Regions from separate parts of the Homo sapiens genome. Here all the other regions are linked to region 1. The links come from fine-mapping of genetic effects on plasma protein levels. A gene starts in region 1. Each other region holds a variant in brackets. All regions are shown on one strand. Distances are from middle to middle.

Region 1 (8,131 bases):
CCATAAATACATGGCCTCCTGGGAAAAGGGTCTGGGCAAAGATGCTGGTGGCGGGAGAGGCCAGGAAAGGAGAGGTGAGGCGGGGGAGTGGTGAGGAAAGAGACAGCAAAGCTGCAGCATCCTGGGGCCATGGCAGGGTCTCATCTCCTCCCCACTTGTCCCCAGGGATGGGGCCTAGAGGTCCCTTCTTGATCGGTTAGAGACCCACTGGATTCCATTGCTATCAATCTTGTGTGGCTACAGTAGGAAGAAGCAGATGGTCTGGGCAGGGTTGGGTGGCCCTCAAAATGCTTTCTGATCCCCACCCACCACCACCAAGGGAGCACCACATGTTTGCGGACAAATTTATAAGCCATTTGACTAGCCACCTGATTATCTTCACTGGCCCTTTCTTGCCCTGTTTGAAAGTCTGTGGGGACTCAACTTTGAGATGTGGAGTCCCAGCTCTGGACAACATGGAGTCATATTGATCAGCCACAGAAAGGAGAGGTGGCCCTTATGGTCAGCTGCACTGAAGATTGTGGGCTCTGGATGTCACCAAAGAAGAAGAAACTGTTCTGCCCCCTATTTTGCCCACCTCAAAAGAACAGACAGTAGGTAGCTGGAGTCCATGGCACGGTGGCTAAGCCAGGATGCTGGAGGCCGATCCCAGGCCTCACTCTGTCATCTAGGCTGGAGTGCAGTGGCACGATCACAGCTCACTGCAGGCTTAACCTCCCAGGCTCAGGTGATCTTTCTACCTCAGCCTCCTAGGTAGCTGGGACTACAGGTGTGCACTGCCACACTGGCTAATTTTTGTGTGTTTTTTGTTGAGACGGGGTTTCGCCACGTTGCCCAGGGTTCCACTTGTTTACTATTTCTTTTGAGCAAGTTCCTTACTCTTACTGAGCAACATCTGAAAAGTGAGGATAATAACAACATGGACCTCTTGCGCAAGTAATTCAGGTAAAGCATTTAGCACAGCTCCCGGCATGTGGGAGGCATTCAAAACAGATATTATTTCTGTTATTATCAAGCTAATGGGCCCCACAAGCAAAACTCAGCCTGCACCCCCAAATGCCCACCCCACTCTCTCCTCAGGAACAGGAGCATCTCAGAGACTGGGAGTGCAGATCCCCCTAATCTCCCCAAACTCATTCATACTAGACTTCACTGAGAGCTTCAGACAAGTGAGAAGATGAGACTTTGGGAACTGTCTCCCCATCCAAGTCTAGGCTTGGCAAATGTTCTTGTTTTCACTTATTGTGTCTGCCAGAGTCCACATGGAGCATGCTGGTTGCATTGAGATCTGAGAGTCTTTAAGACCCAAGTCACCTGTGCTAACGACCCTCCCCAGAGACCCAGCTCCCACCACAGGGCAGCAGCTGTCCTAAAATAGAGTCACAAAGACAGCTGTCTCCGTCTAAAGCAATCCTTGCAAGCATTTCCAGACTGTTGGTTCCTGGGCCAGCCTATTTCCTGGCCCGTCAGCCCCCTGCAGCAGACATAGCATCCTTTTCTTGGCAAGGACTTGTTCCTGCCGTTTTCTGCTAGGAGAGAACTTGCAGAGCCTCTCTTTGGAGCCCAGGCTGACTTGAATGGTGCCAAAGAGCAAGGTTCACCTCAGGAGCTCAGAGCCAATGTGCCAGCCCTCAGACATACAGATAGGCAAGGACAGTGTGGGCAGGGGAAGGAAGGGAAAGATATCCTGGCAAGGGGTTGATGTGTCTGTCTATATAACAGCATTCAACATTATTTAAGAAACATCATTAGCAAAATCCAAGTCCTCCCCATCAGGAACAAAGAAGACTATCTCTCAAGTTGGGCAAGCCCTTTGGAGGGGCTCAGAAGGAAAGGAGGGGAGCGCATGTGGGACCTGGGCAGACATTCCAGCCTTGGAGGCTGAGCAGCAGAACCTCCCCGACTCCTTCTCCTTTTCCAGACCCTCTCATTCTGGCCCAGGTCCCCAGGACCTCCTCCACTCAGGGAGACATGGAGCCATGATCCAGGCTTGACAGGTATAGCCATTTAAAACTGGGAGGCTGGCCTGGCCCTGCCAGCTGTTGCAGCATCTGGACTGCTCACCGGTCTTGCCTGTGCAAGCTGGACAGCAGGCAGATCAGAGGGGGGTGAGACAACAGTGACAGCCTGACAGGGCCGACTGGTGCCGCAGATGGCTGGTCCCTCCGCCTCCGGGCCACAGCCTTCCTGGGCACTCCCCCACGTGACCGGAGCAGGGCAGGAGAAAGGCATCGCTGACAAGGGTGAGCACTTAGAATCTCAGAGCTGGCAGGACTGTGTCCATCTTTAATCCCTTCAGGTACCAGCGAGGCTCAGAGAGGGCAGGGCACCTAGCCAAGCACACACAGCCAGTCGGTTGTGGAGCCCAGAGTATGCTTCAGACACCCAGACCCCTAATCCAGGGAGCTTTTCATGACATCACACTGCTGGTTGCTTAAAAATGGGATTGGATCCAAACGTACTGATGCGTAAAAGTGTCCAAGATCAGTTACACAGTTAAAAGTCTTTGGCCAATCCTACTGTTTTATGTAATCACATTTGTGTGAAATAACCCTACTAACCCATGTAATTGTATACACGAAAATAATAAACCTGGGGGCATGTACTTAGATTTATTAAGAGTAGTGGTTGAGGGACTTTCACTATGTATTTTTAAATGTCCTCTAATATTTAGATATTTTGACAAAAAGCTCAAACTACTTTTGAACAAGGGAAACAATAAAGAGGAACATGGGGTGGACCGGGCAACAGAGACAGCCCCTCCCTGCCACTTGCCCCACACAGCAAGCTGGGATTTCTGATTTGGATCTCTTCCTCGGATAGGGGATTTCTGGGGAAACCAGGAGTTTTGGCTCCATGGGTCTCCAGGGTTTGAGGAGTAAGAGCCACTTTCTTTTCCCTCTTCACCCCGCCCCTCTCCTGCCCCTTCAGCCCTGGGCAGGGGGACTAGAAGTGGGGCTGGGCAGGATCGGGAGGGCAGGCGGGCCAGACAGCGCCCCGCGGCCTGTCCATGAGCGGCCCATGCATTATGGAAGACGCGCGCTGGGCTCGCTCCCTGGTCCTTAAATGACAGCAAATGAGGTAAAGCCAGGAGGGTGGGGACGGAAGTGGGGTGGGAGGGGGGCAGAAGGAAGCCATCTCCAGGGCCCCCGAGCGTTGGCTGAGGACCAGAGCCAGCCAGTGAGCGGAGCCTGGGAGAGGGAGGAGCACATCTTGATGCAGAGATGCTGCAGTGGCTCCGGGCGCGCTCACACACACGCGCCCTCACCCGCCACCGCCGCCGCGGCCGCCGCCGCACCCGGACAGCGAGCGGCTGAGGCCGCCAGGGCCCAAAGGACAGCGGCCCAGACAGGGGCTGGCGGCCCGGCCGGCCCCGGCTCACCGACTCGGGCAGCATCCACCTGCCCCAGCCAACACCCTTCTCTCGCCCCAGGTAGGTGCCAACCGCTTTTGTCTCCTCCAACCCAGGGACTTCCCTGCGTGCTGTTATGGGCCGGGGCTCCCGGCTCAGTTCCTGTAAATATCCCCCTTGTAACTTGGGAGGGAACAGGGACAGGAACACTGGCAGGCTGGGGCCGTTCTGACTTCTCCCCTCAGCCCCAGGGTGGGTGCTGGGGCTCCCCTCCGCCCTGTCTACGTGGGCGGCATCCCGCAGGGCTCTCTCAGGCCGAGCCTGGCCGAAAAGCTGGACCCCAGGAGTGTGTCCAGGAATTCCAGTTGGCCAGCGGGCAGTGGCAGCTGCCTGTGGAGAGGGCAGTTTCTCCTGGGCCGGCCCTGGGCACCCGGTCCAGGACAGGACCAGTCCATACAGCCAGGCCCTGGGCCCTGGCCTGCCCCAGAAGTCCCTGCATGGAATTGAGCCGGAGTCCCCAGTTTTGAGGTCACCCAGGGTCTACCTCTGCAGGGTGACCTCTTTGCAAAGTCTTGCTTCAGCTGGATGGAGAGGGGGGCTGTGGAAGAGAGAGGGGAGAGTGGAGCACAAGTTTGGGCAAGGGCCTGTCCAGGAACTGGGACTCGGGGAGGAGAGTCCTGAGGCCAGTCACATCCCAAAGGGCGAGAGGCTGGGGCTACCGGGCTGAAATTCCTTTCCTTCCCTTCCCCCTCCCAACCTTAGCTTCTCCTCAAATCCCTCCCCCCCATCCTCACTGGTGGGAGGGAAGAATTTGCACAAAGTTTGGCTTTCCAGTAAGGAAAGGGGCTGGGGCCAGAATGGTATGGGGAAGGGAAGGGGCAGAGCTGGGGAGTTCTGGAAAGAGAGGGCAATCCTTCTGCCCAGCACCGTGGGGCTTACATAATGGGCTGGAGGTGGGGGGCAGCCCCAGCCAGTGAGTGTCCAGAGCTGAATCCTGTCACCTTCTCCAAGAGGGTCTCTCAGGTCTGGGAAGCAGCGGGGCATGGAGAAGGCAGTGCCTATGGAAGGGGAGAATCCTGCTGCTACTTGGGGATGGAGACGGGCACCCTCTAGCCCCAGACCCCTGGGGGTTGAGCCTGTGTCCTGGGGGGGGGGGTCCAGTGAGGCCAGGAGGGAGTGGGGTTGTGCATGCCATGGCCCCAGCCCTGGAGAAAGGTGGGTTTCAGCATCTTTTCCCTCTGCTCAGAAGGAGCTGGGAGGAGGAACAGCCCAAGAAACCCAGTGCACAGGTGATGTTCTGGTCTCGTCTGGGCAACAGTTTCGGCCTCCTCTCCCAACCGTCTGGCCAAAGACGCCTCAGCTCACTTAGCCTCCGAGTCTCTCTACCTCCTGGTCCCACTCAGAGGGGCCGGATGAGCCACTGGAGATCGAGTGCAGCAAAAGGTGGGCCACCTGTGGGAGAGGCTGCTGTGATCGCACCTGGACAGGGAGATGGCCTGGAGGTCACAACAGGTGCCCTCACTCCTGGCCTTGGGAGAAGGGAGCTCTCCCCTTAAAGACAGCAGCATCCAAGCCCCTCCCCAGGGTGCCCACCAGTTAACCCCTTTCTAGCCAAGCTGCAGAACCATGGACAGGGCTTTTGCCACAAGGTCAGAGTCCTTCCTAATCTCCCGTGGAAGTCCTCAGCGAATAAGAGGGAGGCAGGAGGTGAGACAGACAGGAAAGGGCCCCTGACCTGATGATGTCAAAGTCACCCAAGGTCCACCTGCCTCACAGGTGCAGAGACCACTGTGCTCACACCATGAGCGGTGAGGGAAGCAGAGGCACACTCCTTATGCAGATGAGTGCCTCAGACTCCAGGAGTCTGCTCTCATTCCCGGCTCTTTCTCTCTTACTCTCCTCCCTTCCTCTACTCCTTCTTTCCTCGCACTCCCTTCTCTCATCGCGTGTACTCCACCGGCTTCAGCCCTCAGCCTCCCGCCGCCACCATTTCCCCTGCCAGATTTCACTCCTTATGCAACTCCATTCCAGCACCTTCTCTGCCAGCAGTTGTTCAAATAGAGACACATGTGGGATGGGCCTCCGAGGAATTGTGCTTAACGGGGTGATTGCACATCTCGTCTCTGGCTGACCAAACTTACTCCTTAGGAGCATGTACATAGACAGGTGTACCCCAAGGCATCCTTTCTGCCTCTAAAGTCACCAGGGAAGCAACGCATTTGGGGTGGTTTGGAGGATGCATGGTGCCCTCTTCAGAAACCTCCTTGAGCCAAACGTTGGTGAGAAAGCGTATTTCAAAGACAATCTCTAAGCCTGAGTGTGGGTGGTATTTGTATTTTTGGAGGGATTCCTAGGGCAGAACCAGGGGGTTGGAGAAGAGGTGATTGATATGCAGGGGAGGAAGAACCAGAGCAAAGAATATGCCAGGGAAGCCAGAGGGACTTAAGTTAGACTGCAGGAGACACTTCCTGGCTAGAAGAGTGAGCCATGAGGAGGTGGGGCAGTCTCCTTTCAGATGACTCTAAGGATGGTGTGGAGAACTGGGGTCTGGTCCAAGGTTAGAGAGTCCTGCCTAGAGGCAAAGGTTGGGCTGGCTGACCCTGTAAATTTCTTCCAACTTCTAGTAATCCTCTTTCAAATGGTAAAAGGTGGATGTGACTCAGGAATCCATAAGAAGGCAGACATCCTTTTCATCCCCTCATGCATGCTGGCCACCCCCTCATCCTTCAGGACTACAACCCCAATCTAAACAAACCACCCAGAGGCTGTTGCTAACCTGGAACATTTATGGGAGTTTCTGTGGGCTCCGTATCCTGACGGTAACCATCCTAGAGTAAGTCCTTTCTTAGTTTGATGATTCCTTGCTACAAGATTAGCCCATGTTTCTTTGTTTACCAAAGAGAATGCAAACAAAAGCAAGGAGTGTGATATTCTCATCCAAAACCTGAACACCTCCCATCCCAGGACACACTCAGGCCCAAACGCATCTCAGTGTCCTTTTTACCTAATGAGACATTCAGTTCACTACGTAGGTGGGGAAGTCAACCCCAGCCCCTCACACACACCCATCTAGTCAAACCTGCTGGGCTTCCTCCAGCCTAAGCCCACATCTTCTCAGTGCCTGCCACCCTGAACACCCTGACCAAGGGGTTCTCCCACCCTGTGCCTGGCTGGAGGGCAGCCTTCCTGCAGTGCTGCCCAAGAGGTGAAGTTAATCTGGACCCCAAATCCAAAGGAAACTAGCTTGAGAGGAGGAGCAGGTTGGACCTCACCCCCACCAGGCTTAAGCTCTGAGCCACCCTGGAGGAAGCTGTCTAGGAACTGGGGGGAGCCTCCTTGCAGCAGAGTTGGGGGACAAGCAGAAATTGCTCTGCTAATGCACGAGGAAATTTTCTTCCTGATTTGCTTTTTCAGAAACAAGTTGAAACCATTGTTCTTACGCCTGGCATCTCAAAAAGGGATCCTTCTAAAGCCCTCACTCACTGCCTCACACCACACACAGAGCAGGGCAGGCAAGTAGGAAAACCTAAGGTCTGGGGGTGGCTGGCTTCTGATCCTGAGCTTCCCAGGAGGATGGAAGCCTCTCTTCTTCTGTCCACTCCCTACTTTAAAGGGTCTCTCTGTTAGAGTAGGTCTCTCTTGCAGGGGCAAAGACTCTAGGCTCAGATCAAGGGCCAGACTCCCCCCTGCCCAATGCTAGAAGATCAAACAAATCCATGAGCCTGGGAGCCACAGCTCTCCCCAGAGGGCACGTCAGCACCAGGGCTGGGCCTCGGGGAAGCAGCTGCAATCACAAAGAGCCTGCAGAGAGAGCTGAGCAGCTCACAGAGGGGACTAAGGAAGGACGGGGCTGCACGACACCCCTGGTCCCCATTGGGGCTGAGGAGGTCCCTATGTCCCCATTTCTGCCCTAAGGATGTCTCCAGCTCAGGGTACCACAGAGACCCCTCAGTCACAATCCTTCACCCCACCCCTGCCAGCTGCAGCCTGGCCTGGCCCGCTGAGATCCTAGCAGCCCTCACCCACGCCACCACAGAGCCCTGTACTGACCAGAGGGGCATGGGGATGGTTCAGACCTTCCTGGAGGATGATGGTGCTGTCCCAGGAGGCAATTCTTGTCTTAGGCAAAGGAAAAGGTACTGATCTTAGATCCCATCAGGCAGGAGGTGAGGGCTGTTGAGAAGGAGTACCTGCTTGGGAGTGCCTGTCCTGGCCGCGTGACCCCCTGAGCACATTGTACCAGGTATAACTCTGGCATGGGGGCTGTGTCCTTGTGCCCTAGTCTGGGGTGCTGTGCTAGTGCTTACCTATGACCATTGCACCTTTGAGGCGTAAGAGGAGGGAGGCACCTGCCCAGGAGATTGTGGGTTTGTCAGTCTCCTAAATACATATGAGTGCCGCCTGGACGTTGTGACTGTATAGAAGTAAGCCAGACAGGCACAGTGGCTGCGGACACACGGCTGTGAGATTTCTCAGTTCTAAGATCTGATCTTTCCTGAGCACTCACTATGAGCCTGTGATGGTGCTGACCTCACAGCAGCCCCATGGGGCGGGTCCTGCCCTTCTCATCCCATTCTTGCAGATGGGAGAGTGAGGCTGGGAGAGGTTAAGTAACGACTGTGATAACCAGGTTATACTAGTTAGTTTTATTAGGGTTATACTAGCTAGACAGCAGCAGGCAGGTTGACTCAATGGCCTGCCCTGTTAACCAGTGTGCTGTTTTATAGGATAGAGGTCAAGCGGGGGCCTGAAGGGCTCCTCAAGTACTTTGTAGGCTGA
Region 2 (8,131 bases), 14 kb before region 1:
ATTAAGAGTGAAGGCTCTGCCCCCTCTTGCCCAGCTGCCCACAAAGGGCTGGAATCTGGGAATTCATTACAGCCTTTCTCATCAAGGAGGCCTCTCCTGTCCAACATTATTTTAGGTGGAGAAAGGCGGGGGAGGGGGACCCATTTCAGCATCCCCCTCCCCACTTAACGCATCAGAGCCCATTTGTTTGATGTCAGTTCCTGCTGGAGCACCGACCAGGCAGTGGGCCTCAGAGCAATTTAGAGCCACAGCTGTGGCCCGACAGCCCAGCCCCCAGCCCCCAGCCCCAGCCCCCAGCCCCCAACCCTCACTCCTACTCCCACCCCAGAATTTGCTGCTGATTAGCCCCAGCCACACACACACCCCAACCACCCCCCCAACCACCACCAGCAAGAAGCATGGCTTTGTGTAGACCTGGGACTCGGTTGAGTCTGATAAGGTCTGCACACAGACCCTCAGCCCTGGCCGGGGCTCACTGGAAACTCACCTCACCCACACTGAACCCAAACAGGAGTTCTGACTGCTCAGCTTCGCGCAGAGACAACTGCAGAGAGTGAGAAGCTAGAGGACGGGATTCTTCCACACTGAAACAAACACACACAAGGACATCTCCTGTGCTTAAAACCCCAAATACCTTCTCAAAAGGCTGAATCCTAGTAAACCAAGGGTCCAGGCTTGATCTGGGTACAGAGGTTGCAGATAGCATCTGGGGAGAGCTTTGTATAATAGAGAGGGGGAGATTTTGGACCTACAGGGCAATCCAGGGGGCAGCAACTGAGGAGCAAGAAACAGCAGAAAGGAGATTAGAGGAGTGGTTCTCAAAGGGTGGTCCCTAGACCGGCAGTATCAGAACCACCTGGGAACTTGTTAGCAGTATCAGAACCACCTGGGAACTTGTAGCAATTCACATTCTTGGCTGGGCACAGTGGCTCACGCCTGTAATCCTAGCACTTTGGGAGGCTGAGGCAGGTGGATCACTTGAGGCCAGGAATTCAACACCAGCTTGGCCAACATGGTGAAACAAACCCCTTCTCTACTAAAAAACACATTCTTGGGCCTCACCCTATATCTACTGTATCAGAAACTCTGGGATTTGTGTTCTCACAAACCCTCCAGGTGATGCTGATGCAGGCATCATGTTTGAGGCCCCTAGATGAGAGGGACACACTGAAAAACCTGTGTATGCCTGGATGTGACCCTTCTTCACGTCCCCCGAATTGGCAATCAAGCCTACTACATTTGTGAATTTGCTTCTTGTGAATGGATGTTTTATGCAAACTAGCAAAGTTGCTGGACTTTACATCCAAATTGATGCAGGGCACAGAGACTGCAGAAGAATAGAGGGGTCAGAGCATGAACCCCCAGGAATTAGCAAAAATGGTGAGGGGGGCTTGGACTTTCACAGTCCATGGAATTGGCAGGGGACTGAGCTGTTTATACATTACTGTCAAAGAGGCAAGAAGGCACCAGATGGTATTTGGGTCACAACACATTTACATGTAAGTGACTTAAGAGGAGAAGGGGAACGAATATTGTTGAAACCAACTGCATGAGGCACAGTGATGTGCATTTCATGCCAATGCTCTCTTTTAGCCTGCACACCAGCCCTTTGACGTAGGTAGCTTTACATCCTGTTTTGCATGAGGAAATTGTGACTCCAAATAGCAGAATAATTTTTTTTTTTGAGACAGAGTCTCACTCTGTCACCCAGGCTGGAGTTCAGTGGCATGATCTCAGCTCACTCCAACCTCCGCCTTGCTGTTTCCAGCGATTCTCCTGCCTCAGCCTCCCAAGTAGCTGGGATTACAGGTGCCCACCACCATGCCCAGCTAATTTTTGTATTTTTAGTAGAGACGGGGTTTCACCATGTTGTCCAGGCTGGTCTCGAACTCCTGACCTCAGGTGATCTGCCCGTCTCAGCCTCCCAAAGTGCTGGGATTACAGGCGTGAGCCACTGCACCCGGCCCAAATAGCAGAATAATTTGCCCAAGGTAAATGACAAAGCCAGAACTAGCTGCCAGTTTGGTCTGACTAAAAAACCTCCACTTTCACTACTGTGATTGGGGTATGAATGGGCCTCCCTGTGAAGAATCAGCCCTGGTGCCTGTGCCTCAAAGGCATCATGCCAGAGCAGCCCCTGCCAACTCTCCAACATGTCCCCGCAACCGTTCGCCCCCCTCCTCCGCTCTGGGTAGCAGGACGTGCAGGCTCCTGAATGCCCCAGGAAACCCCAGGAGAAGGTTGTGGGTGCCATGCAGCTCGTGGTCACATGATGAGGGGGCAGCAAATTACAGGTGCTCAGCTTTCTGCAAATGTGCCCTAAGTACCAAGTAAGAGCCAGGACTCTGCAGACAGGTCAGGCACTAGCTGTGTGACCTCAGGCAACTGACTGAACCTCTCTTTGCCTGAGTTTCCTCATCTACAAAATAAGGGTTGTCATTGTAGCTACTTTGTAGGTTGTTGTAAGGATCAAATCAATTGAAATGTGAAAAGTGTCTGAGGCATAGGAAGCACTATATAATAATGTATTACATTTAAATAAATGAATGAATCACTTTACACTTTCCCCTCTGCTGTCTACCCAAATGTTCTTCCAGACTCGACACCCTCCTTCAAAAACCCTCCCAATCCTTCAAAGCAGGCTCAAATCCATTTCTCATAATCCCCTTGGCCCACGGGGCTAGCTCTCTCGAGAGCTTTTCTCAACCTTCTTGCTCCTCCAGCAGGGACTTGTCTGACATTGCAGAGACTTTCTCCTGTATCTGGCCAGGCTGCAAACCTGCGGAGGGCAGGGCCAGTACTTTATGCCTCTTGTACCTTTGTGGCCCCCAGTCCTGTGCCCCACACATAGTGTGTGGGGGTCCATAAATACATGTTGACTGATCCTTGGGACCCGCAGTCCCTGCAGGGTAACCAGATCCCATTTGTATTCAAGCTGTCTGCGTTACTGTATTTATTGGCCGGCTAGTGGTTTAGTCCATGGTGTATAGGGGTTAGGGATGAGGAGGGGGCAGGCAATATTTCTCTTCCTAAAAGCAAGTTTACCAGGTTCCAAGTGGCTGGATGTAAGGGCCAGTGATGAGTGTTGAGAGCTGGGGTTCACTCTACAGCCCCATTAATTAACTTTCCCCAAGTCCCCTAAGTGCTCTTGCCTCCCGTTAAAGGCCAGCAACCCACCGTCATTCATCAGAAAGGACAGTCCATCCTTCACTTCCCTCCCTCCTGCTCCTTCTAGCTCCAGCCTGGCTGTTAGGACACACTATGACCCTCAACTCACCCAACAACCCGTGTGGCAGAAGAGGATAAGGCTGGATGTCCAAAGGCCTGGGTTTGCCCCAAGAATGACCCCAGGACAGGACTCAGCCAATGTCCTTTTCACAAGCCCCACAGCACTGGGTCCCCATGGATGTGGATGCGGTTACCTCTCTGGGGTCATTTTACACCAAGATATAGGAGCCTGACTCCCAAGCTTAGAGCTTCTTCCGGGCCATAGGCATTCGGGGTTCCTTCCTTCTCAACACTGACAACACCCCTCCTCAGGGAAAGATGGTCTGGCGAAGACCGACATCAATGCAGTCAGCCCTAAGACCCAGAGGAGCTCACGTCTTCCATCCTTCTCCCTACCGAGTCCCAGCAACAATCTCCGTGAAAAGCAAAAAACACACAGAAAATCTTTCCTTCCAAATTACTGCATCAACCTCCTTCCCAAGTTTTCTGCAGGGCGTGCCCTGGTGTGGCTGGCATGGGTGAGGCCGCTGGCTGACTGCGGGGAA[C/T]GTGCACAGGGCCCACCCAGGACCCCAGGAGACCCCCTAGTCCCCTCTCAATTATGTGCCTGTGGTTCAGACCCATGGAATGTCAGGGCTGGAGTAAGCCCAGGTCCAGTCCCCTTGTCTTACAGATTCCACACACCAAGTGCTAAATCCAAAACTGGCTCCCATACCGCACAGCAAATGTACCCCCCCACCTTCCACATGAGCTAATGCGTCCTCAGAGAAAGCAGACTCACATTTCAAATGACGGCCACCAGACCTCATCTGAAAGAGCTGAGGGCTTTTCCGGGAGGAAAAAATACACAAACTTAGAAATAGACTCATTCCAAAGCCAAATAGCAATCATCTGGGATTTTCGGCTGCCCCAGACCCTCCACAGCCCACGATCCTCCTATGAAAGCTGGCAGCTAGGGCTGTGGCCAGTTTGGGAAAGTTGAAGGCAGGCACAGGCAAGATGGTAAATCTCAGGCAGCTCATCCCATGCTAAGCTGAAGAATTTGTAGGTGTGACTTTGGTTCCCAGAAGCAGACTCCAGACCAGGGCCTCTACACCCCCTTTCTTCCCTCTCCCTAACCCCGACATGCACCTCCTTCCATTTACCATTCCCCAGCCCCTCCTCAGAGCCCTCAGACCACTCTCGCAGGTCCATCAGTGGCTTTTAAGTGAGTCCCCAGCTTTCATCCTATTAGTGAGCCGGGGAGTAATTACGACTTCATTAGCCAAATAGGTTCTTGGTTCAGAGACTCCCTCCTACAAAACAAAACACACACCCGCTCCCCTCCATCTGAAGTCTGTCCCCGGAGGCCTGCAGCTAACAATGCAGTGGCTTCGGGGAAAGCCAGCAGGAAAGGGGGAAGGAGAGAGGGGAGGCCGGCCATGGGGAGGAGGCCCCCCGCCCTCCTCCAGGGCGCATCTGTCAGCTGGCCCCATAGAGACCTGTGACAGGGAGAGGGATGACACTCCAGCAAATGAGGCCGTGACCCCTCCGAGCCGTCTGCTGTCCCTTGCCCTCTGGCCTTGCTCACCCCTCCAGTTATGGGCTTAACCCATGGCCAGTGCACTTCACAGATGGGCAGGCAGCCTCCTCAGCTGAAGGCTCTCTGGGCTAATGTCCAGGGCCTCCAGAGGGCAGGGTAGTCCTGGCTCCCCCGCCCCATCTCCCACCCTATACTTCAGCTGCTGCAGCTCCAGGAGCAAGGAAGCCATGGGTCTGCCAGAAAGGACAAAGCTGTGACCCCAACCTCCCTGGCCAGGGGAACTTTAGCCAGCCCGCGGCCACCAGACCAGGCAGGCAGGTCCTGGGAAAAATGCCACAACCCCCGGCCTCTTATCTGTCATCCCACACCTCAGCATTAGAAAGAGTTTTCTTTGGGTCTGTATGAGCTCTGCATTGCAATTAAAACCATCCACACTTGGGCAATCGCGTACCCTCCTTCTCTTTTCCTATTCTTTTAATGGATTTTAGGAGCATGGAGTCTAATCCTCCTGCCTCTGAGTGGGACCCAGCTAGCCTAGTCTATGCCAAATCTTCCTGAGTTTCTCTAGCCAAACAATGCTAATCACAACGTCCCGCCTCTCCGCCAGGTCAGGTAAGCATCCAGGATGAGGCCACACCCGCTCCCATCACTCTTTTTTTTTTCTGAGACGGAGTCTTACTCTGTCACCCAGGCTGGGGTGCAGTGGCACGATCTCAGCTCACTGCAAGCTCCGCCTCCCGGGTTCATGCCATTCTTCTGCCTCAGCGTCCCGAGTAGCTGGGACTACAGGCGCCCGCCACCACACCAGCTAATTTTTTGTATTATTTACTACAGACAGGGTTTCACCGTGTGAGCCAGGATGGTCTTGATCTCCTGACCTCATGATCTTCCCGCCTCAGCCTCCCAAAGTGCTGGGATTACAGGCGTGAGCCACCGTGCCCGGCCTCCATCACTCCCATTGCCCACTCTCCGCTAGGAGAAGAGGCAGGCTCCCTGCAGACCCTCTGGCATGTGCCTCTTTGTCCATGCAGCTTCCAAAGAGAACTGGCTGCTTCTTCTGGGGGCTTTGCAAGTAACAGCTGATGAATTCTCATTCCTGCTGAGGGCCCCTCTGCTTGGGTCCTCCACCGGCAAGATGCCATCTGCTGAGGCTGGACCCAGAGGCAGAGGGATAGATGAGATGACCTCCAGACAGCCTTGCCATTTACAAGACTCCAAGCTATGTACAGCCTTGGCCCTGGCTCTGGCTCTAACTTGACCCCATTCTGTCCCCAGGTCCAACGACTCAGCCTCCATCCTCCCTCCCCACCACCCCAATCTACAACCAGTCCAGAAGCCAGGCAAGAGGACCTCTGCTCCTTGCCCTTCAAGGAAAAGGAGTCCTCAGAGGCCAGCCCAGCTGTACACACTGCGCCCCTGCTTGTGTTCCCTGAAAGCAACCGTCCTTTTGTTAATTCTGCCATTTCCCAAAGTGCCAGGAGCATCTCATCTGACAGCCACAGCATCTGTTCTTCTCACTCTCCAGAAGGTTGGGTGGGAGCCGTGCCAGCTTTTCCCCAAGGCTCTCCCAGCCTCACGTTCCTTCTGCCTGAGTTGGACACCCTGCTCACCTGGTCCCCTGGGGGCACCTCCAGTTCCCTCTCTGCATCCCTGGCCCCTGGCACCTCTTCCTATGACCACGGTTGGCAGCCTCGATAGCCATCTCCCCTCCCGGGGTCAAGCTCACCTGGCCAAGCAGATGGGCACCTATCCTCTTCCTTAGGGAAATGCAGGGAAAGTGGCTGTTTTCCATTTGAGGCCTGCCCAGGGCCCCTAGCAGGTATAGGAGCCACAGGCTGCCAAGGAAGGGAGAAGACTCATGCTTGGTCCTTTCCAGGGCCCCCTCCCTCGGTACATACAGCCTTTGGAATGCTCCATTGATTCCAAAGCAGTGAAGTTCTGGCTAGTTCCCCAGCCCATAAGACCCACTGGGAGTCTGGCCTGGCCCTGCCCTAAGCTTTAGCACGGGGCTCCTTCGGGCCGGGAAATTCTTAGGTGGTGGGGGCTGACCTGTGCACTGTAGGATGCTTAGCAGCGTCCTCACCTCTACCCACTAGATGCCAACAACACACCTTCTACCCCACACACACTCCCACTGTGATAACTACAAATGCCGCCAGACCTTGCCAAATGGCCCCCTAGTTGACAACCACTGAGCTAAGGCAAAAAAGAAACCCAACACCTAAGTGTCAGTGACTGACATCCCCCTGGTTTCTGATTCCTAGGCTGCAGGTGACAGAGGCATGGCTTAAACCAGGGATCAGCAAACATTTTCTGTAGAAAGCCAGATAGTAAATATCTTCAGCTTTGTTGAATGAATATCTTCATACAGCCTCTGTTGCAACTACTCGACTGCCGATGTGGCATAAAAGCAGCCACAGACAATATATAAATGAATGAGCGTGGCTGTGTTCCAATTAATCTTTATTTATGAACACTGAAATTTCAATTTCATATGATTTTTATGTGTCGCGACATCTTCTGATTTTTTCAACCATTTAAAAATGTAAAATGCATTCTTAGCACACTCTATGCCGCTGGCTTACAGGAGCTCAGAGGGATCAAAACACCTGGGGCCCTGTTGACCGGCTCCTAGGAGATTAACAAAGCCAAGGGCAGGGTTTGAAGTTGTGAATGAAGTCCTGCGCCTCTAGGACAGGGAGGAAGATCATTCTTTGGCCCAGTAACTCCAGGTACTGTTTTTAGTGGGGAAACCCCACTGACCTGAGCAGGACCAGCCACGTAACTTGCAGTGAGTGCCCAATGCAAAATGAGAATACTAGGCCCCTTGTTTAAAAGTGATTGTAAATTCCAAGACAGCAGCAGAAAAGCATTAAACCAAGCATGGGGCCCTTCTGAGCACAGACTCTACACACAGGCTGGGGATCCAGAAAGGTGGCCCTGGACCTCAGTCTACCTCCCAGAGAGGTCTGCACCCACCTCACAGCCTCTGCCAGCTCAGGCTCATCCTCTGACCCTGGTGGACAGCTTCTCCCAGGGGCCCTGCATGATGACACCTGGCTGAGGCAGTGAATAAAGAGTTAAACCTGGCTCATGCTCCCTCTCCATGCTGTGTGCCCTGGTGCAATTCTGCGTCTGCTTTTTGGGGTAATTTGCTCAACTTAGGTTGGTACTGGTCCTGCCTCCAGGGCACCCAGGGTGGAGAGAGAAGTAGCCACTTGTGCCCCAACACAATTGGTTGTTTATTTGCCTGGTGAGGCTTGGGAATGAGAAAACATTTTAACTGTGTCTTGAAGGAAGACTCTGAGTTTACCAGGTAGACCAGGTGTTTGTGGTATGAGCTGGAGGAGGCAGGGAAGAGATGGTGCCAGGAAGAAGCAACAG
Region 3 (4,018 bases), 27 kb after region 1:
GCACAGCTAGTAAATGGCAGAGGTGGGATTTGATTTCAGGACTGCCTGACTCCAAAGCCTATGTTCAGAGGGACCACTGGGGGGCAAACCCAGGGCCCAGTTGAAGGGGTTCCCATCTTACGGTGCTCTACAGGCACAGGCTCAGGGCTTTCATTTTTTCCTTGCTCATTAACAAGCCATATCGGTGTCCCTTGGCCCTTGACAGCCCCCTCGGTGGCACCCTCAGGACTCAGCGGAGGAGGTGGAGCCCCCGGAGAGCTCATCGTCAACTGGACGGTAAGCTGCAAGGGTCAGATGTCCTCCTCCTCCTCCCTGACCCCTCTCCCGCTTGAGCAGCTGCAGAAAGGACCACTGCACAGCTCTGACTCAAACGCGGATAACTTCCTGTCCCCCTTCCACGCACCCGCTGCCCCTTACGCGAATCCACGCTGCAGGCGTAGGCGTCCAGGGCCGCTACTCTTGGCAAAGGTTGGGTGGGGCCAGGGAACGGGCAGGGACACATGCCGCGGACCCTCGCCCATGCCATGCTCTTGCCCCTCAGCCCATGTCACGGGAGTACCAGAACGGAGACGGCTTCGGCTACCTGCTGTCCTTCCGCAGGCAGGGCAGCACTCACTGGCAGACCGCCCGGGTGCCTGGCGCCGATGCCCAGTACTTTGTCTACAGCAACGAGAGCGTCCGGCCCTACACGCCCTTTGAGGTCAAGATCCGCAGCTACAACCGCCGCGGGGATGGGCCCGAGAGCCTCACTGCACTCGTGTACTCAGCTGAGGAAGGTGGGCTGCCCCTGGGCCCCCTGCTCGTCCCTACCCCAGCCACTTGTCCACAGGGATGTGGGGTGGGGGAACGCTACTCATCTCCCAGCTCAGTTCCATAGGAGGAGGTTGAGAGGACACCTGGGTTCCACATCATTGGCCTCACTTCCAGCTCTTGCTACCTTGTCTCCCTTCGGGGTTAGGAAAAGGGAGGCTCTCTGGGAATAGAAGTGGGCCCTGGAGCATTGCTTGGGGGGCTCCCACTCGGCCTTCATCCTGAAGGCTTTCCTCCAAAATCTTAAGCAAAGGCAATCCTGGTTGGGGGCTGCTCTGCAGGACACAGGGGGGCCCTGGGAATCCAAACCCATTCTGTATTGGTCCCCAGAGCCCAGGGTGGCCCCTACCAAGGTGTGGGCCAAAGGGGTCTCATCCTCAGAGATGAACGTGACCTGGGAACCCGTGCAGCAGGACATGAATGGTATCCTCCTGGGGTATGAGGTGAGCACCAACCTGGGACTTGGGAGAGGAAGGGGTGCTGGGGCTTCAAAGCCAGGTGGGAACAACTCACAGACCACTAATCATTCCTCCTGGCGTCCCTGGTTCGCTGACATGGCAAACTGAGCATCCAGTCTGTGTAGCACTGTGAATGCAAATTTCACTAAGACCCCATGGCAGGCCAGGCGCGGTGGCTCATGCCTGTAATCCCATCACTTTGGGAGGCTGAGGCGGTAGATCTCCTGAGATCAGGAGTTTGAGACCAGCCTGGCCAACATGGTGAAGCCCCGCCTCTACTAAAAATACAAAAATTAGCTGGGCATGGTGGCCCATGCCTGTAATCCCAGCTACTCAGGAGGCTGAGGCAGGAGAATCGCTTGCGTTCAGGAGGCAGAGGTTGCAGTGAGCTGAGATTGCGCCACTGCACTCCAGCCTGGGTGACAAAGCGAGACTCCATCTCAAAAAAAAAAAAAAAAAGACCCCATGGCTTATGCCCATTGGGGAAGACAGACCCTGGAGGCAGCCTTAAAGTAAATGCTTGGCTAGAGCCAGCATTGGAAGCTGAGAGGGTAGAAGGAACAGGTTCTGGGAAGGGGCATGGCCTGCCCCTTTCATCCCAGAGCCCATTCAGGCTGGCCTGTCCAGGGCTGCACAGAAAACAGCCTGAGCCGCTCTATGGACAGTTGATCATCCTGTCCCGGGGGAATCTGGGGCCCAGCAGTCTGGCCTGAGTCCTGGGCCCACTGAGAACTCCACAAAGGGGTACCTGTGGAGCAGATGGCAAGTGATGGGAAGCAAGAGGGAGAGAAAGAAGGAAAAGCAAGAAGAAACCATCAAGCTGGGCCTACTAGTGATAGCACAAGTTCATTCTAGTAGAGTACTCTAGATTTGAGTACAATAGCTTAGGCAAGCCACAGTGTGGAGATAATTCCAAACTCTGCCCTTGCCTCTGCCTTTGAAAGCATATTTAGCAGGTCTTCATGCTATGATTACCATGAAAATGGGTTTGCATTTATTAGGCAACCTTCAGAAGCTTGCTTAGGGCCAGGGGACTACTTTGCAATACAAATAAGCATTTTCTGTCCCTTAGCAGAATGCCCACGGTAGCCCCCCAAGTTAATGAAATGAAATGGGTTCCAGCAGGCCATTGCTAGGTTGAGCCTGTGCCACCAGCTCCCTCCCTGACCCATGTCTTGAGCACCTTCCTTGAACTACGCACCAACAGACAGCAGGGACTCACACCCACATGGCCCTGCTGTCTGGGTGCTCATGATCTAGTCTCCAGGTTCTGAGGCCTAAGACTGGGTCACAGGGACCAGGATGAGCAAGAGAGGAACAGAATGTGGGGGCCGGGGCAGCCCTGAGATCCTGGGCTTGACTACTACCCCTTGGGTACCCCCGCCTCCTTCAGATCCGCTACTGGAAAGCTGGGGACAAAGAAGCAGCTGCGGACCGAGTGAGGACAGCAGGGCTGGACACCAGTGCCCGAGTCAGCGGCCTGCATCCCAACACCAAGTACCATGTGACCGTGAGGGCCTACAACCGGGCTGGCACTGGGCCTGCCAGCCCTTCTGCCAACGCCACGACCATGAAGCCCCGTGAGTCTGTCTGCCTGGGGTGGGGGTAGGGCAATATTTTGGAGGGTGGGTGCCTCTGAGATCATTCCTTCCCCAATGATAAGACAAATGCTCTAGCCCACCAGCTCTGGGCTGAACAGAAATTAGGCAGCGAGCCTAATGGAAATAAGGGAATGGAATTCATGGCCCCTGAAGCGTCTCACACTTCTCCAACCTTTGGATTTTCATGGGCTTTGTTTCGTGGGCATGACAGAATGTGCTGGGTGTAACTGCTAGAGGCAAACATCCAGAGAAGGGCTGG[T/C]TAAAGGTGAGGGGGTGCGGGGTGCCAGGGAAACGTTTGGACATCTCTCCAATTCTTCCTCTCTGGCAGCTCCGCGGCGACCTCCTGGCAACATCTCCTGGACTTTCTCAAGCTCTAGTCTTAGCATTAAGTGGGACCCTGTGGTCCCTTTCCGAAATGAGTCTGCAGTCACCGGCTATAAGGTGAGGAAGCAATCAGCTAGGCCCAGAATGGGAAGGAACAGCTCCTCTGTGTTTCCAGTGAACATAAGCAGCAGCAATTTATAGCAAGAGGCATCTGAGTGAGACATAAGCAAAGGGTTTGTGACTGTGAGAGGAATGAAATTCATGAACTATTCTCTCAGTAACTTGCAGTAGAAACTATAAAAACGGGCAGATGGTATCACTGCAGAAAGGCAGAGTTCACAGGGGCAGTGATGGACTATGGGGATGGAGTATGGGGGTTCTTCTAGCTTAAGGAGTCTACGGAAACAGTTCAGTGGCCTGCAAGCTTTCCTCCACCAATGAGGAGCTTTGTCAATGGGGAGGAGGGGTGAGGAGGCTGGACCTCAAGAGCCCAGAACCATCGGGTCTCCTCCCAGTACCTAAAGCTGGGGATGACTCAACGATCAGCCCTGGTGTCAGGAAACTCCACCTGGAAACCTCCTTCCCACAGATGCTGTACCAGAATGACTTACACCTGACTCCCACGCTCCACCTCACCGGCAAGAACTGGATAGAAATCCCAGTGCCTGAAGACATTGGCCATGCCCTGGTACAAATTCGGACCACAGGGCCCGGAGGGGATGGGATCCCTGCAGAAGTCCACATCGTGAGGAATGGAGGTGCTGCTCCTCCCCTACCCTTATCCCCTCGAGAGATTCAGGATCCACCCAGATACCTGAGAGGATC
Region 4 (4,024 bases), 23 kb after region 1:
GGAGGCCAATTCCCCTCCTGTGACAACAGTCACAGGAGTTGGCCAGCCCCAGGGACAACCATGCCTGAGTTGGCCACATCTGCCTTGTCCTTGCCACAGAGTGACTGTAACTCCAGATGGCACCTTGATCATAAGAAACATCAGCCGGTCAGATGAAGGCAAATACACCTGCTTTGCTGAGAACTTCATGGGCAAAGCCAACAGCACTGGAATCCTATCTGTGCGAGGTGAGGGCTGCCATGTGGGTAGGCCGGGGGCTCAGCCTCCTCAGGGTACTGTCCTCCCCATCATCCTGCTCCTGTGTCCACATTGCTCCTAGTTTGGTGTCAAGGCCACCCCAGGATTCAGTTTTGCTTGGGACCACCCCCTGGCCACCACTGAGACTCTGGTCATGCCTCCCTGCCTGCCACACACTCATGCAGTCCTGGGCAGTTGGGACCTGTGGGTCACACCACCTCTTCTCTTTGCTGGGCCTTAGGACAGAGCCTCTCAGCCTGCCCTGCGGACCCGGCCTGGGCCCATTTCCTCCCCCATCCACCCAAGGGCCTTGTTTTTCTTGGCAGATGCAACCAAAATCACTCTAGCCCCCTCAAGTGCCGACATCAACTTGGGTGACAACCTGACCCTACAGTGCCATGCCTCCCACGACCCCACCATGGACCTCACCTTCACCTGGACCCTGGACGACTTCCCCATCGACTTTGATAAGCCTGGAGGGCACTACCGGAGAACTAATGTGGTGAGACCTAGGGCCAGAGCCCCATGGCTTCTCCCTCCTTCTAGAGAGACAGGGGCCCCAAGATGTCCTTAGCCATCCTCACCTTTAAGAAACCCATAGCCTAAGCGCCCCCATTCCCTCAGGCCCACACATGGCAAGCTCATCCTTGGATGAACAGC[T/C]GACCTTCCTGGATTCCACCCAGGGACCATGCATTTAGGAGAGGGTTAGGGACAAACCTGGAGTTGTGGGCAGCCACCAAGACACTCCCACTACTGTTCTTGTTAGCCTGTCCCCTAGGGCAAATGATATTATTAATGTGGACAGTCATTGACTGTCTCCTGAAACAAACTTTGCTGTTTAGTCCCCAGTGGTTCTAAGTGATGAGTCGTGATTCCTCCCATTGAGCAGACAGGAAAACTGAGATCCAGTGGGGTCCATGGATGTCATGGAGTAGGGGACTCCCAAGCGCTGCCTCATGTCTCATGGCCTGCTGCACTGGTCAGGGCCGGTGGTCTGACCTGCTGCCCCTAACTGTCCCCGTGTGCAGAAGGAGACCATTGGGGATCTGACCATCCTGAACGCCCAGCTGCGCCATGGGGGGAAGTACACGTGCATGGCCCAGACGGTGGTGGACAGCGCGTCCAAGGAGGCCACAGTCCTGGTCCGAGGTGAGGGGTTTCCCACCTCTACCCCTACCCCAACTCCCTTAAAACCCAGCTGGGCTGTTCTGACCTGCTCGCCTCATCTCCCCTCCCTTCCCTCAAAGCTGCGGGGAAGGGCTTCCGGCGGAACTCCTGTGAGCTGGATATACCCTGTGGTTCTTCACAGGTCCTAAATGATCAGGACATTTTTCTTCCAAAGTCAAAGTTTAAAAAATCCACTCCTAAACACATCCCAAGACAGGAGTGCTTTACTGAGCCCTGAAGTTTTCAAAGCCTAGTGCTGGGAGATCTATGCACCTCTCCATGTGACAGCCTCTGTGAGCTCCCCCAGCCTTGAGACACATCCCTCCACCCAACAACTGGCACCCGCCCCAACTGCCCACACCCCTTGCCCGCCCTCCCGCCTGGGTGTGTGTTCACTGCATCCTCTGCTGCCCTGTCTTGGTACTGTACCAGCTCAAGCCTGGCTGGGAGGAGGTTGGCTCAAATTGGAAGCTGCCCAATTCTGACCCACTGTGCTCTGACCTCTTGGTGCAGGTCCGCCAGGTCCCCCAGGAGGTGTGGTGGTGAGGGACATTGGCGACACCACCATCCAGCTCAGCTGGAGCCGTGGCTTCGACAACCACAGCCCCATCGCTAAGTACACCCTGCAAGCTCGCACTCCACCTGCAGGGAAGTGGAAGCAGGTTCGGACCAGTAAGTGTGAGCCCCACCTGGGTCAGTGCTGATAAGGCTCGACTGGGTGTAGGAGGTGGAAAGGGTCAAGGTTTGGGGATCGGGGTCTGAGGGCCAGGGCTGAGCCTGGAGCTTCAAAGAGGGACAAGATCTGTCCTCTGCCAGCAGAGAGCATGCAGGCAGGCAGGAAGACAGTCACACAGAAAGTAGGAGAGTCGGGAAAGAGTTAGAAGAGGAGGCGCTTGGTCTATGCCCTTGAAGAATTGGTAGGATTGTTACTGGAGCAATGAAAATATTCATGGGGACATAGGGGCGTAGGCGTGCACACAGCATTGCAGAGGCACCAAGATAGGGAAATTGAGTAGTTTTTCAATCATTTCTGAAAAAGGTACTGAGTGCTTAGTATATGGCAAGTACCGAAGTGAGGGCTGGGTAGATAAGGGGTGATTCAGGCCAGTGCCTGCCCTCTGCACCCAGATGAATAAGCGAATGCTGGAATATGGACTCCCTGGTGCCTTGCAGATCCTGCAAACATCGAGGGCAATGCCGAGACTGCACAGGTGCTGGGCCTCACCCCCTGGATGGACTATGAGTTCCGGGTCATAGCCAGCAACATTCTGGGCACTGGGGAGCCTAGTGGGCCCTCCAGCAAAATCCGGACCAGGGAAGCAGGTGAGAGTCCTGTGTGTCCCAAAAAGCTATCATCAGGGCAGAGACCCTGGCACCACTTATAGGGAATGCCAAGCCAGCCGCAATTATGCTGAGTTCCAACCCTGCTCACAGGGTTCAGACTCTCACAAAACAGAGGAGGACAGAACACCAAGTTGGGACCAGGGCCACTGCATGGACAAACCATCTAGTCCAAACTCCTCATTTAAAAACTGGCCAACCTTACAACTGCATGTGCATCTATAATTTTTTTAAGTTTAATTTTTAAAAGTGGAAAAACCAAAGTTCGGAGAAAGGAAGAGTCACATTGACAGAGCTTGGACTTGAACCCAGGACCATGGGGTGGTAGACAGATGTCTTCCTGGAAGAGTATGCACTACAGAAATCAGTTAATGCTGGCTGGGCGCAGTGGCTCAAGCCTGTAATCCCAGCACTTTGGGAGGCCGAGGCAGGCAGATCACCTGAGGTCAGAAGTTTGAGACCAGCCTGGCCAACATGGTGAAACCCCGTCTCTACTAAAAATACAAAAATTAGCCAGGCGTGGTGACACACACCTGTAAATCCCAGCTACTCGGGAGGCTGAAGCAGGAGAATCGCTTGAACCCGGGAGGTGGAGGTTGCAGTGAGCCAAGATTGTACCACTGCACTCCATCCTGGGCGACAGAGCGAGACTCCATCTCAAAAAAAAAAAAAAAAAAAAAAAAAAAAGAAAGAAAAAAAGGAAATCAGTTGATGTGAAAGATGTGTGTGTGTTCTGTGCAGGGGGCTAGGGAAGCAGCCAGTGTCTCCAAGCCTTTAGATGGTTTCTTTGGGAGCAGATGGAATTGAATAACCTGCCCACAACCCTCAGCAAAAAGCGTGTGGGTGTCAGAACTTGAGTGGAGAAGGAGGGGGAGAAAAGAACCCAGGAGAGAGTAGGGGAGGCACAGGCTCCAGTCAGCATCTGCTGAGAGGCTCCTGCCCATCTCCGAGCCATTCGCAGGGGAAGGCCTGGAATGAGAGCCCGGGGATCCTGGGACCAGGAGCATAGATTAAGGACCCTGCCTCACCTCCTCTACAGACCTGTTGCACTGGATGTGTAGTGAGGGTCCACCTTCTTGTCTGCCTGAAACATGTTCTCCTACATGCCCCAGACTGACTCTCCAGGCCCTTTTTCTAGAATCACTCAACATTTTTAGCTGGTACCTCTCCTGAGTAAGAAATTCCAGAGGCAGCACTTTCTTTGATTGATCCTGAACTTCTTGGAGGGTCAAATGTGGAGAAATGAGGGGACTCCTTTATTCTATTTACAGCATCCCAG

Alleles and levels. Alleles are on the strand shown, and positions count from the first base shown. The strength of an association depends on the size of the effect and on how common the allele is.
For the plasma level of the protein whose gene starts at base 3,251 in region 1, allele T in region 2 goes with a higher level than allele C (moderate association).
In carriers of allele C in region 3, the plasma level of the protein whose gene starts at base 3,251 in region 1 tends to be lower than with T alone (moderate association).
As copies of T replace C in region 4, the plasma level of the protein whose gene starts at base 3,251 in region 1 goes up (weak association).

The links. PIP is the posterior inclusion probability: the model's chance that the variant is causal. The UK Biobank Pharma Proteomics Project read protein levels with antibody pairs (Olink). The fine-mapping took linkage between variants from a reference panel, not from the people measured, so its PIPs are less certain.
Region 2: its variant is fine-mapped to the plasma level of the CNTN2 protein (UK Biobank, PIP 0.98).
Region 3: its variant is fine-mapped to the plasma level of the CNTN2 protein (UK Biobank, PIP above 0.99).
Region 4: its variant is fine-mapped to the plasma level of the CNTN2 protein (UK Biobank, PIP above 0.99).

What each region holds. Positions count from the first base shown.
Region 1 is chr1:205,039,962-205,048,092 of GRCh38, forward strand. It overlaps CNTN2 (contactin 2), which reads left to right and starts at 3,251. Exons shown (of 23, transcript NM_005076.5): 1 at 3,251-3,433. RefSeq lists enhancers at 2,945-3,089, 3,037-3,181, 7,248-7,752 and cis regulatory regions at 3,017, 3,109.
Region 2 is chr1:205,026,442-205,034,572 of GRCh38, forward strand. No RefSeq gene overlaps it. Among named protein-coding and RNA genes, the nearest start is that of CNTN2, 13 kb to the right of the region's middle. RefSeq lists an enhancer at 1-159. The variant C/T (reference allele first, on the strand shown) is at 3,774.
Region 3 is chr1:205,069,286-205,073,303 of GRCh38, forward strand. It overlaps CNTN2 (contactin 2), which reads left to right. Exons shown (of 23, transcript NM_005076.5): 17 at 206-276; 18 at 542-776; 19 at 1,141-1,253; 20 at 2,662-2,848; 21 at 3,198-3,310; 22 at 3,783-3,951. Among named protein-coding and RNA genes, the nearest start is that of TMEM81, 13 kb to the right of the region's middle. RefSeq lists an enhancer at 3,133-4,018. The variant T/C (reference allele first, on the strand shown) is at 3,129.
Region 4 is chr1:205,064,524-205,068,547 of GRCh38, forward strand. CNTN2 (contactin 2) reads left to right here. Exons shown (of 23, transcript NM_005076.5): 12 at 100-227; 13 at 564-739; 14 at 1,266-1,386; 15 at 1,918-2,076; 16 at 2,578-2,727. Among named protein-coding and RNA genes, the nearest start is that of TMEM81, 18 kb to the right of the region's middle. The variant T/C (reference allele first, on the strand shown) is at 898.